2 separate regions of the Homo sapiens genome follow, and region 2 is linked to region 1. Evidence: fine-mapped expression QTL. A gene starts in region 1. The other region holds a variant in brackets. All regions are shown on one strand. Distances are from middle to middle.

Evidence for each region. PIP is the estimated chance that this variant, and not a neighbour inherited with it, causes the effect. A credible set is the group of variants that fine-mapping cannot tell apart.
Region 2: its variant is the best candidate, but not a certain one, in a credible set for the expression of C5orf34 in CD4 T cells (BLUEPRINT, PIP 0.73).

The regions. Positions count from the first base shown.
Region 1 is chr5:43,513,137-43,518,136 of GRCh38, reverse strand. It overlaps C5orf34 (chromosome 5 open reading frame 34), which reads left to right and starts at 2,989. Exons shown (of 13, transcript NM_198566.4): 1 at 2,989-3,331. LOC124900190 (a long non-coding RNA gene) reads right to left here. Exons shown (of 3, transcript XR_007058764.1): 2 at 1-3,944. RefSeq lists an enhancer at 3,222-3,381.
Region 2 is chr5:43,452,007-43,457,539 of GRCh38, reverse strand. TMEM267 (transmembrane protein 267) reads left to right here. Exons shown (of 3, transcript NM_022483.5): 2 at 3,497-3,882. The coding sequence starts at 3,571. Among named protein-coding and RNA genes, the nearest start is that of TMEM267, 29 kb to the left of the region's middle. The variant AAT/T (reference allele first, on the strand shown) is at 3,330.

The DNA of each region.
Region 1 (5,000 bases):
TCTTAGGTGACCAGGTGCATTGTCAATAAGTAGCAATATTTTAAAAGAAATCTATTTTTCTGAATGTCATTTTCAACAGTGGGCTTAAAATATTCAGTAAATCATACTCTAAACAGATGTGCTGTCATCCAGGCTCTGTTGTTTCTGGAGTGCAGGCAGAGTAGATTTAACATAATTCTTAAGGGCCCTAGGATTTTGAAATGAGAAATGAGCATTGGTTTCAACTTCAAGTCACCAGCTGCATTAGACCTTCACAAGACAATCAGCCTGTCCTTTGAAGCTTTGAAACCAGGCATTAATTTCTCTCTGGCTATGAAAGTCCTGGATGACATCTTCCACTAGAAGGCTGTTGCATCTACATTAAAAATCCGCTGTTTAATTTGGCCACCTTCATCAATGGTCTTCGTTAGATCTTCTGGATAACTTGCTGCAGCTTCTACATCAGCACTTGTGGCTTCACCTTGCCCTTTTATGTTACAGAGATGGCTTCTTTCCTTAAATTTCATGAACCAACTACTGATAGCTTTAAACTTTTCTTCAACTCCCTCACCTTTCTCAGCCTTCATAGAATCGAAGAGAGTTAGGGCTTTGTTCTGGATTAGGCTTTGGTTTAAGGGAATGTTGTAGCTGGTTTGATCTTCTATCCAGACCATTCAAACTTCCTCCCTGTCAGTAATAAGGCTGTTTTGGTTTTTCTTATTATTCATGTGTTCACTGGAGTAGTACTTTTAATTTCCTTTAAGAATTTTTTCTTTGTATTCACAACTTGGCTGTTTGACACAAGAGGCTTAGCTTTCAGCCTATCTTAGCTTTCAACATGCCTTCCTTACAGGCTTAATCATGCATTTCTAGGTTATGATTTAAAGTGAGAGACATACAACCCTCTTTTACTTGGACACTTAGAAGCCACTGTAGGGGTATTACTTTGCCTAATTTTGATATTGTTGTGTCTCAAGGAATAGGAAGGCTCTAGGAGAGGGTGAGAGATGAGAGTGGCCAGTGAATACAGCAGCCAGACACACACAATATATATCAATCGACTTGTTACTAGTGGAAGAGATCTGAGTTACCCCAAGTTACCAGCAGCCTATCCTTGCAGGTCCATAGCAACTTCAGTCCTGGCCTCCTCAGAGAAGAAAGAATTTGACTGACAGACATAAAGCAGAAAAGAGACTGAAGCAAGTTCCAGAGTAGGAATGGAGGTTTATTTAAACAGGCATTAGAACAGGAAAGAAAGGAAGGTACGCATGGAAGAGACCCAAGTGGGCATGTGAAGGTTAAAGAGAGAAGGCCAGCCGGGTGCAGTGGCTCACGCCTATAATCCCAGAACTTTGGGAGGCTGAAGCAGGTGGATCATGAGGTCAGGAGTTCAAGACCAGCCTGGCCAAGATGGTGAAACCCTGTCTCTACTAAAAATACAAAAAAATTAGCCGGGTATGGTGGTGGGCGCCTGTAATCCCAGCTACTCGGGGAGGGGGCTGAGGCAGAGAATTGCTTGAACCCGGGAGGCGGAGATTGCAGTGAGCTGAAATCGCGCCACTGCACTGCAGCCTGGGCGACAGAGTGAGACTCCGTCTCAAAAAAAAAAGAAAAAGAAAAGGAGAGAGAGAGAGAGAAGGTCAAGTGCCGCATTTAACCATGATCTTAGGATGGGCTCCCTGCATGCTCAGAGCCCTCTTTACCCTTGGGAAGTGAGCACACACAGTGATTTTATGGATTTATACACATGCCCATCTGAGGCTTTCTTCCTTTTTCCGGTGGAGTGTATCAGAAAAATCATACTTCATCACTTTTGTCTCTTAACCGGCATGCCCAGGAAGTTGCTTCTCTCTGGGGCCTGCATTCAATTAACATTTTGATGTTAACAGGTGTGGGCCATCAGGAAATGGCCTTTCCCTGGCGCTGCCAAATTTTCATTTTTAGAGAGGCCATGTGATAATTGCTGAACCATCACCCAACATTTCTAGTGGGTGGGTGGCAGGGGAGAGCCCTCTCCTGCCTTGCTCATGCCTAACTACCTGTAACAGATTCAGTTCGCCATTTTATAATGTATGAGCATGATCTGTGGTCCCCCAAAACAATTACAGTAGTGACATCAAAGATCAGTGATCACACAGATCACTCTAACAGATACAAAAATAATGAAAAAGTTTGAAATATTGTGGGAATTACCAAAATATGTCAGAGACACAAAGTGAGCACATGATGTTGGAAAAACATGGCACCCATACACTTGCTCCATCAAGGTTGCCTCAAACCTTCCATTTGTAGTAAACTCAGTATCTGCAAAGCACAATAAAATGCACAATAAAACAAGGTATGCCTCTCTATGCTCTCACAAACCTCTGTATTTTATCTTAGAAACACTCACAACTGTAATAAATGATTGTTTATTCTTTCTTTCCAGTTAATCTCTAGCTCTGATCCTCACCCGCAAAGAACTGGGCCACCTTCCCTGCTTTATCCCCACTATGCCTAAACACACAGTGAGTGTTCCATAAACACTTGTTTAGTGGCAATAAATATAGCAGACACATTTATTTGCCACTTTATAAGGAAAAAAGGTGCAGATACATAGACGACCTATTTTCTGATACCAAATTAGGAAGAGTTCTCCATCTTTGGCCAAGTTTTTTTTTTTCTAAACAGCTTTACTGAAGTATAATCGTTTTTTACCTTATTTAAAAATAAGTACCACTCCACTAAAACGCGCTCTGTGGTTAGTTCTCGGCTGGACCGTTCAAAAGGCTGATCCTTACAGCCTTTATTATTAATACAACCAGGTCGGGACTGCTTTTGCGTGGGTCACCAGAAGTAAAAAATCAAAGAGGAGCCAACCCCATTCCGAACAAGGAAACACCCGTCCCCTTCCTACACCAATTCCTGCTCCGCCCTTCGTAGGGAACGCAGCGAGGGCAGCCTCCGGAGTGGAGGGGCGGGACTTCCGGCCCTTCCTGTTGTGGAGGGGCGGGACTTCCTGTCTTCCCTGTTGCGGAGCTCTGAAGCGGCTCCCTGAGGGCGCTGGTTTTGAACTGGTCTTGTGCGGTTTGCGCTTTCTCTTAGTGGTTACAGTTGGCGCTGTCTCCGCTTTCCTGTTTCGTGGCGGGCATCTTGGCCAAAACACTCTCCCTGCCACCTTATTCCTCTAGGGTTGTGATTTTTTTCTTTCACCAAGAAATATCACTCGCTGGTAATTTGTCAAACTGAAGAAACCCCTGAAGAAGCAGTGGTGGGCAGGCGCCGACGCTGCGGCTTCCAGAGCATTTTGGCAAATCAAAGCCAGGGACCGTTGCTGGGCCTCATTTCCGCAACTTTTCGGCTCCGAACTGCTGTGAGTGGAAGACTTTTGGTGGTTGTTTTGATCAGGCTCCTTCTGTAACTAGAGACTATAGCATTTTGAAAGAAATGAGATTCTCATTCATGTCAAGAACAGACTTGTGGATTTTTGAGTGTTAAACATACCCTGACGTAATGTGCTGGGTGATGAGAACGCAAGCGGGAATGAGACTGTAGAGATGAGAATGGCAGTGTGGGTTGGAGCCGGGTTATGGTTTCCTATGGTATGCCAAGAACCTTAGTCATTACACTGTTTGTTGTGTATGCTTGATTATTTAAAATTAGAAAACCGCCTCAGTAAAGCTATTAAAAAAAAGACCTGACCAAAGATAGACTATTTTTCCCAAATTGGAATCAGAAAATGTCTTCCATCTATGTATCAGCACCCGTTTTTTCCCCTAAAATACCAAGTAGACATACCCGATATATACGTGTGTGTTTATATATATATCTGTAATCTATATTGCCATTTGATAAGTACGTAAACAGGTGATGTAAAGCACTTGGTATGGTGTGACTTGTGGAAAGTTACCTATGTCATCAATACTAGAGATGGATTGGAGAGAGAAGAAATTCCAGACAGTTGCAGGAGTTGGAGAGTCTATGGCCTGAAAAAGAGAAAGAGGTAGAGAGAGTCAGGTTCCAAAGACAGAAAATCAACAGGACTTGTTACAGGGGCATGGAGTGGAAAGTCAAGTTTTAGAATATTGGCTGCTAACAATGAGACACCATTAATTCAAATTGCAAATTCAAGAGGAGCAGTTTACTTATTTTTCATCATTCAAATATTTATTGTGCCATTTACTATTTGCCTAATACTGTTTTAGATGCCAGAGATACTGTTACATATAAGACAGATAAGGCCCCTGCTTCGGTTGACTTTATATCCTAGTGGGAGAAAATAAAAAGCAAGTAAATAATCAATTTTGATGATAGATTCTATGAAGAAAAAACTTGAAGAGGGATGACAAATGATTGGGAGATGTTTGGGAGTAACTTTAACTTAGTTGGTCGTTGGGCCCTTGTAGGAGTTACATTTGTGCTGAAACCTTGATGATGATAAAGAACCAGCCTTGTGATTAGCCAAGGAAAAGACAAGGCAGGCAGAAAGAACTGCAAAGATGGGAAAGAGCTTGTTTAAAGAACATTTAAAATGCCAATGTATCTAAAGTGCCCTGTAGAAGTAGGAGAGAGTTGAGAAATGACATTGGGAGAGGTAGATAGGACCAGACTGTGTGGCCTTTGTAGGCCATAGTTTAGGAGTTTGGATTTTAAGTAGAAATGGAAGGTACTGGTGGGTTTTAAGCCACGAAGTGATAGATGTGATTTTCATTTTAAAAGATCCCTCTGGGCACTACTGTATGCAGACTGGATTTGAGGGAAGAGATGAGAGTGAAAGTGCAATTAGGGGGTATTACAGAAGCCTGCTTTTGGTAGGAGTGATTAAGTTCCATTTTAGTTATGTTGAGTTTGATTTATCTATGGGACAGGGACATAGAGAGCGGTCTAGCAGGCAGCCACCTGAAAGCTCTGTGAGAGGTCAGGTACATTTAGTTCTCTAGAGAAAGAAAATAATTAAAAGTGTGTGAATCTCCTCAGGAGAGACCATGTGGTTAAATATTTACTTATATCCTGACATATCCTCAGAAGATTACAGATGATAT
Region 2 (5,533 bases), 61 kb after region 1:
TTCCACTTTAGTCTTCTACTCTGGCCATGTAAAACGTGACTCCTTCCTCTTTACCTTCCACCATGATTGTAAGTTTCCTGAGGTTTCCTCAGCCATGCTTCCTGTACAGCCTGCAGAACTGTAAGCCAATTAAGCTTCTTTTCATTGTAAATTACCCAGTTTCAGGTAGTTCCATGCAATAACAGACTAATACATAAACCTAAATAGTAGTTTTAGGTTTACAGAAAAATTGAGCCAATATTATAGAGAATTCTTATAGATGCCCTTTGCCCTGCATACATTTTCCCCATTATTAATATTTGCAATAGTGTGGTATATTTGATACAAGTAGGGAACCAATATTGATATGTTATTTTTGACTAAAGTCCATACTTTATATTAGGGTTCATCCTTTATGTCGCACAGTTCTATGGGTTTTAACTGTGTAATTTTTGTTTGTTTGACTTCTTTCACTTACTATAATCATTTCAAGATTCATTCATGTTTTTATGTGTATCACATGTTTGTTCCTTTTTATTCCACCTTTTGTTTATTCACATGTTTGTGGACATTTGAGTTGTTTCCAACTTGGAACAAATTCAGATAAAGCTGCTATGAACATTCATGTGTAAGCCTTTGTGTACACATAAGCTTTTGGGAAAATACCTAGAAGTGGAATGACTGGGTTATATGGTAAGAGTACGTTTAACTTTCTGAGAAATTGGAAAACTGTTTTTCCAAAATAGTCATACTGTTTTTTATTCCGACCAGCAGCGTATGAGTTCTGGTTGCTCCACATCTTTGTCAACATCTGGGATTGTCAGTCTTTAATTTTAGCCATTTAACAGGTGTGTGATATCTAATTTTTAAAATTTGCATTTCCCTAATAATTAATGGTGATGAACATATTTCTTATACTTATTGGCTATCTGAATATCATCAATGGTAGGTACCCATTTTCACATCTTTTGTCCATTTTTGTATTGGTTTGTTTTCCTATTACTCTGTTTTGAGAGTTCTTTATATATTCTGGATGTAAGTCCTTTATCAGATATAAGATTTAAAAATTGTTTTTTCTTTCTCTTAACATTGTCTTTCAAAGATCAGAAGCTTTTAATTTTGATAAGTTCAACTTACCAATTTTTTAATGGATCAAGCTTTTGGTATTTTATCTAATAACTCTTTGCGTGACCCAAGGACACAAAAATACTTTATGTTTTTTTCCAGAAATTTTATCTTTTTATGTTTTATTTACATTTAGGTTTGTGATTCATTTTGAGATAATTTTTGTATATGGAGTAAGATATAGATTCAGGTTTATGATTTTTGCATATGGATATCCATTTGTTCTCACACCATTTGTTGAAAAGAATATTCTTCCTCCATTGATTTATCTTTGCACCTTTATCAAAAATTAATTGACCAGGCTGGGCATGATGGCTCATGCCTGTAATCTCAGCACTTTGGGAAGCCAAGGATCACTTGAGGCCAGGAGTTCGAGACCAGCTAGGAGTTCGAGGCCTCTCTAGAGACAGGGAGACCTTGTCTCTTTGAAAAAAAAAAAAGGCATGGTGACACACATCTGTGGCTCCAGCTACTCAAGAGACTGAGGTAGGAGAACTTCTTAAACGTGGGAGGTAAAGGGTGTAGTGAGCCATAACTGTGCCACTACACTCCAGTAAAACTCTGTCTTAAATAAAAAAAAATTGGCTGGGCACGATGGCTCACGCCTATTATCCCAGCTCTTTGGGAGGCTGAGGTGGGTGGATCACTTGAGGTCAGAAGTTCGAAACCAGCCTGGCCAACATGGTGAAACCCATCTCTACTAAAAATACAAACAAAAAAATTAGCCAGGCATGGTGGCGGGCACCTGTAATCCCAGCTACTTGAGAGGCTGAGGCAGGAGAATTGCTTGAACCCAGGAGGCAGAGGTTGCAGCGAGCCAAGATCACACCACTGCACTCCAGCCTGGGTGACAGAGTGAGACTCCATCTCAAAAAATAAATACATAAATAAATAAAATTGACTAGGTATGTTTGGTTCTATTTCTGATCCCACTCTGTATTCTGTTTTGTTAGTCTGTATGTCTGTCATTATACCAATACTACACTGTTTTGATTACTGTAGCTTTTTTTTTTTTAAGACAGGGTCTCTGTGTTGCCCAGGCTGGCATGCAGTAGCACGATTACAGCCCACTGCAGCCTCAACCTCCGGGGCTTAAGCGATCCTCCCACCTCAGCCTCTCAAGTAGCTGGGACTACAGGCATGCACCACCACGCCTAGCTAATTTTTTATTATTTGTAGAGACAGTGTCTCACTATGTTGCCCAGGTTGGTCTCGAGCTCCTGTCCTCAAGCAATCCTCCTGCCTCAGCCTCCTAAAGTGTTGGGATTACAGGTGTAAGCCACTGTGCCCAGCCTACTGTAGCTTTATAATGAAACTTAAAATAAGATGGCATAAGTAGTCCTCCAACTTAGTTTCTGTTTTTCAAAATTGTTTTATTCTTCTAGGTCCTCTGCAGTTTTAGAATATATATAATGAGCTATGTATAGCTTTTATTGTGTAATAGAAGTTGAGTCATTATCAATAAATCAGTTATTCTTTAGTCTCAGGATTAAAACAAAACAATGTAAAAGAAAAAACTTCATGTGTCACACTTTAGGTAGACAAATATTTTCTAGCTAGGTAAATAATGTCAATATTCTGTGCCATGTGAGAACTCAGCATAGAATTATGATTGCATTTTTATATCAATTAAGGTTATTTGGTTCAAGGCATCAGAAATGTAAAGGGGATTTGATGGGAAAATGTTGGGGTAGCTCATTGAAGTGGAGGGGGAGCTGCAAGATCTAGGGTAGCTCTGAGAACCTTTAGACGTTGGACATAAGTACTCACTGTCATCATGATTCTATTAGCCTTTCTCCTTTGTGTCTCTCTGGGATTTTATTTTCCTAGGCTATTTCGTGTAGTGGAGCCCATGGCCTCCAAGAAGAGGAACTTTCTCTACCACAAGACAAATTTTGGAAAGGAATCTGATTGGCTCAGCCTGGACCACTTTCATTACTAGATTAGTCACCATTATTAGGGAAATGGAAAACTCTAATTGGTGAGCTCTGGAGTTTAATGTGAGAAAGTTTTCCCAAAGGAAGGGATTACTGTTGTCAGAAGTATGGAAAGTAGTTGTTGGGTACACAAACCCAACGGATATTCACCACCATGTACTACACACAGCTGGGAGATAGATCTATTTGATGACCTTAAAGCAATAGATTGCAGTTGGTGGGCTTTCTGAAATTCTCCTTGATACATACCATGTACCCTGCTCTTCCTAAAAAAAAAAAAAAAAAAAA[AAT/T]CTATTCTCCTTGGGCTATGTGACATATTATATATAACATGTAAAAGTTGCCAGTATTTACATCTTGGTTTTATGTTTGTGAAATTATTGCTGATACTGTTTTGTTTAAATATTATATGGTAGTCCATAATCTTCATTCATATTTTTCTCTACTTTCTCCTTTAGGGTGCTGGAAATGTAAACAAGAATAGACTGTTCATTCCTGATGGCTTTTAGTCTATACTAACATATTGTTTGTCATGGCATCCGAGACTGAAAAGACCCATGCTTTACTGCAGACTTGTAGCACTGAATCTCTTATTTCCAGCCTTGGTCTGGGGGCATTTTGCCTCGTAGCTGACAGACTTCTTCAGTTTTCCACAATTCAGCAAAATGACTGGCTTCGTGCTCTCTCAGATAATGCAGTACATTGTGTAATTGGCATGTGGTCATGGGCGGTAGTCACTGGAATCAAGAAGAAGACTGACTTTGGAGAAATCATTTTAGCTGGATTTTTAGCCTCTGTTATTGATGTAGACCACTTTTTTCTAGCTGGATCCATGTCTTTAAAGGTAAAAAGCATAGGCTTAATTTTTCTGATCTTTAATTTCCTTAGCACTATTTTGCTGATCTTTACAGCATCATTTAGAACTAGAGAGGATTTGTCTTAAAATAGGAAAGCACATTCATGTAACCTTTTTGACCACTTAGTACTTGCCTAAAGATGCACACAGACATGTTGCTAATCAAATTATTTGCCATCACAAACTGCTATGGATTCACATAGAGCAAAGACCCACGAACTGTACCTAAAGAGTTCAGTGCTGGCTTACAGAGGATGCGTTTAGCCAGGTCTTGAAGAAAGTATTAGCAAACCGGTTTAAATTAACAGGGGTGATTCTCAAGGCTGTCCTAGTTCTTTCTGTATCAGTGTACTTTCTTCAGGAGCACACTTAACATTTCCCCCTTATTCTTTATGTTTTACAGTTAGTATGCAGCTCCTAAGTACTCCATAAAAGTTGAATAGCTTTAAGATGATTCCCAGTCCTAAGGAATGACTTGAACAGATTAATTCTCCCAGTCCCTTTTGGAGCGAAAGGCATGTATTTCAACTGGACTGGCTAGAACACAGTCCCTTGTGAAGAAATTGAGGAATTTCACTGAGGCATTCAGGAGTTCAGTTATATAGTTCACAAATGAACTAAACTTAAAATGTTGGTTCAGATAATATTTTCTAAATGTCAGAAGATTTGCCTATATTTTACGTGCTTATGATCTATAAACATTTCAGGAAAGAAATCTAAACTCATAGAGCAAGGACTTTCTGTTTCATTCACCCCTGGCCTAGAACAATGCCTGGCTTACCTAGTAGATATTCAGGAAATATTTGTGGAATGAATGAGAAATATTCACTTTTTCCTATTATGCGTCAAGTACCAGGTATTTCTCAGAAATTGATTCACTTATTTAGAAACTTAATCAGTAAAGAATCAGTAATTGCTAATTAAAGACAAACTTTTGTGCTATAAGTAGAGTTAGCATAACATTTTGTTTAAGATTGAAATGAGAAGACTTGAGTTTGAATCCTGGTTGTTTGGTGTTAGTAGAGTACTTTTCTTTTCTTCAGTTTTTTTTTTTTTTTTTATGGATTTAGGGCCACAAGCACAGTTGTATAACGTGTATGTATTGCATAGCGGTAAAGTCTGAGCTTTTAGTGTACCTGTCACTCTAATGCTGTACAAATAGTATTTTATCTCTCACCTCTTCTCACTCTCCCACCTCTTGGAGTCTCCAGTGTCTGTTATTCCACTCTGTATGTCCATGTGTACCCATTGTTTAGCTCTCGCTTACAAGTGAGAACATGTGTGTCTTTTTTACTTTCTGTTTCTGCATCATTTCACTAAGGATAATGGCCTCCAGTTCCATCCATGTTGCTGTACAAGACACGATTTTATTATTTTGTATGGGCAAGTAGTGTTCCATGGTGTGATTATATATCAATCACATTTTATCCAGTCATCCACTGAAGGACACTTAAGTTAATTCCATGACTTTGCTATTGTGTATAGTGCTGTCATAATCATACAAGTGCAGGTGTCTTTTTTATATAATGATTTCTTTTCTTTTTTCTTTCTTTTTTTTTTTTTTTTTTGAGATAGGGTCTTGCTGTGATGCCCAGGCTGGAGTGCAGTGGTGTGATCACGGCTCACTGCAGCATCAACC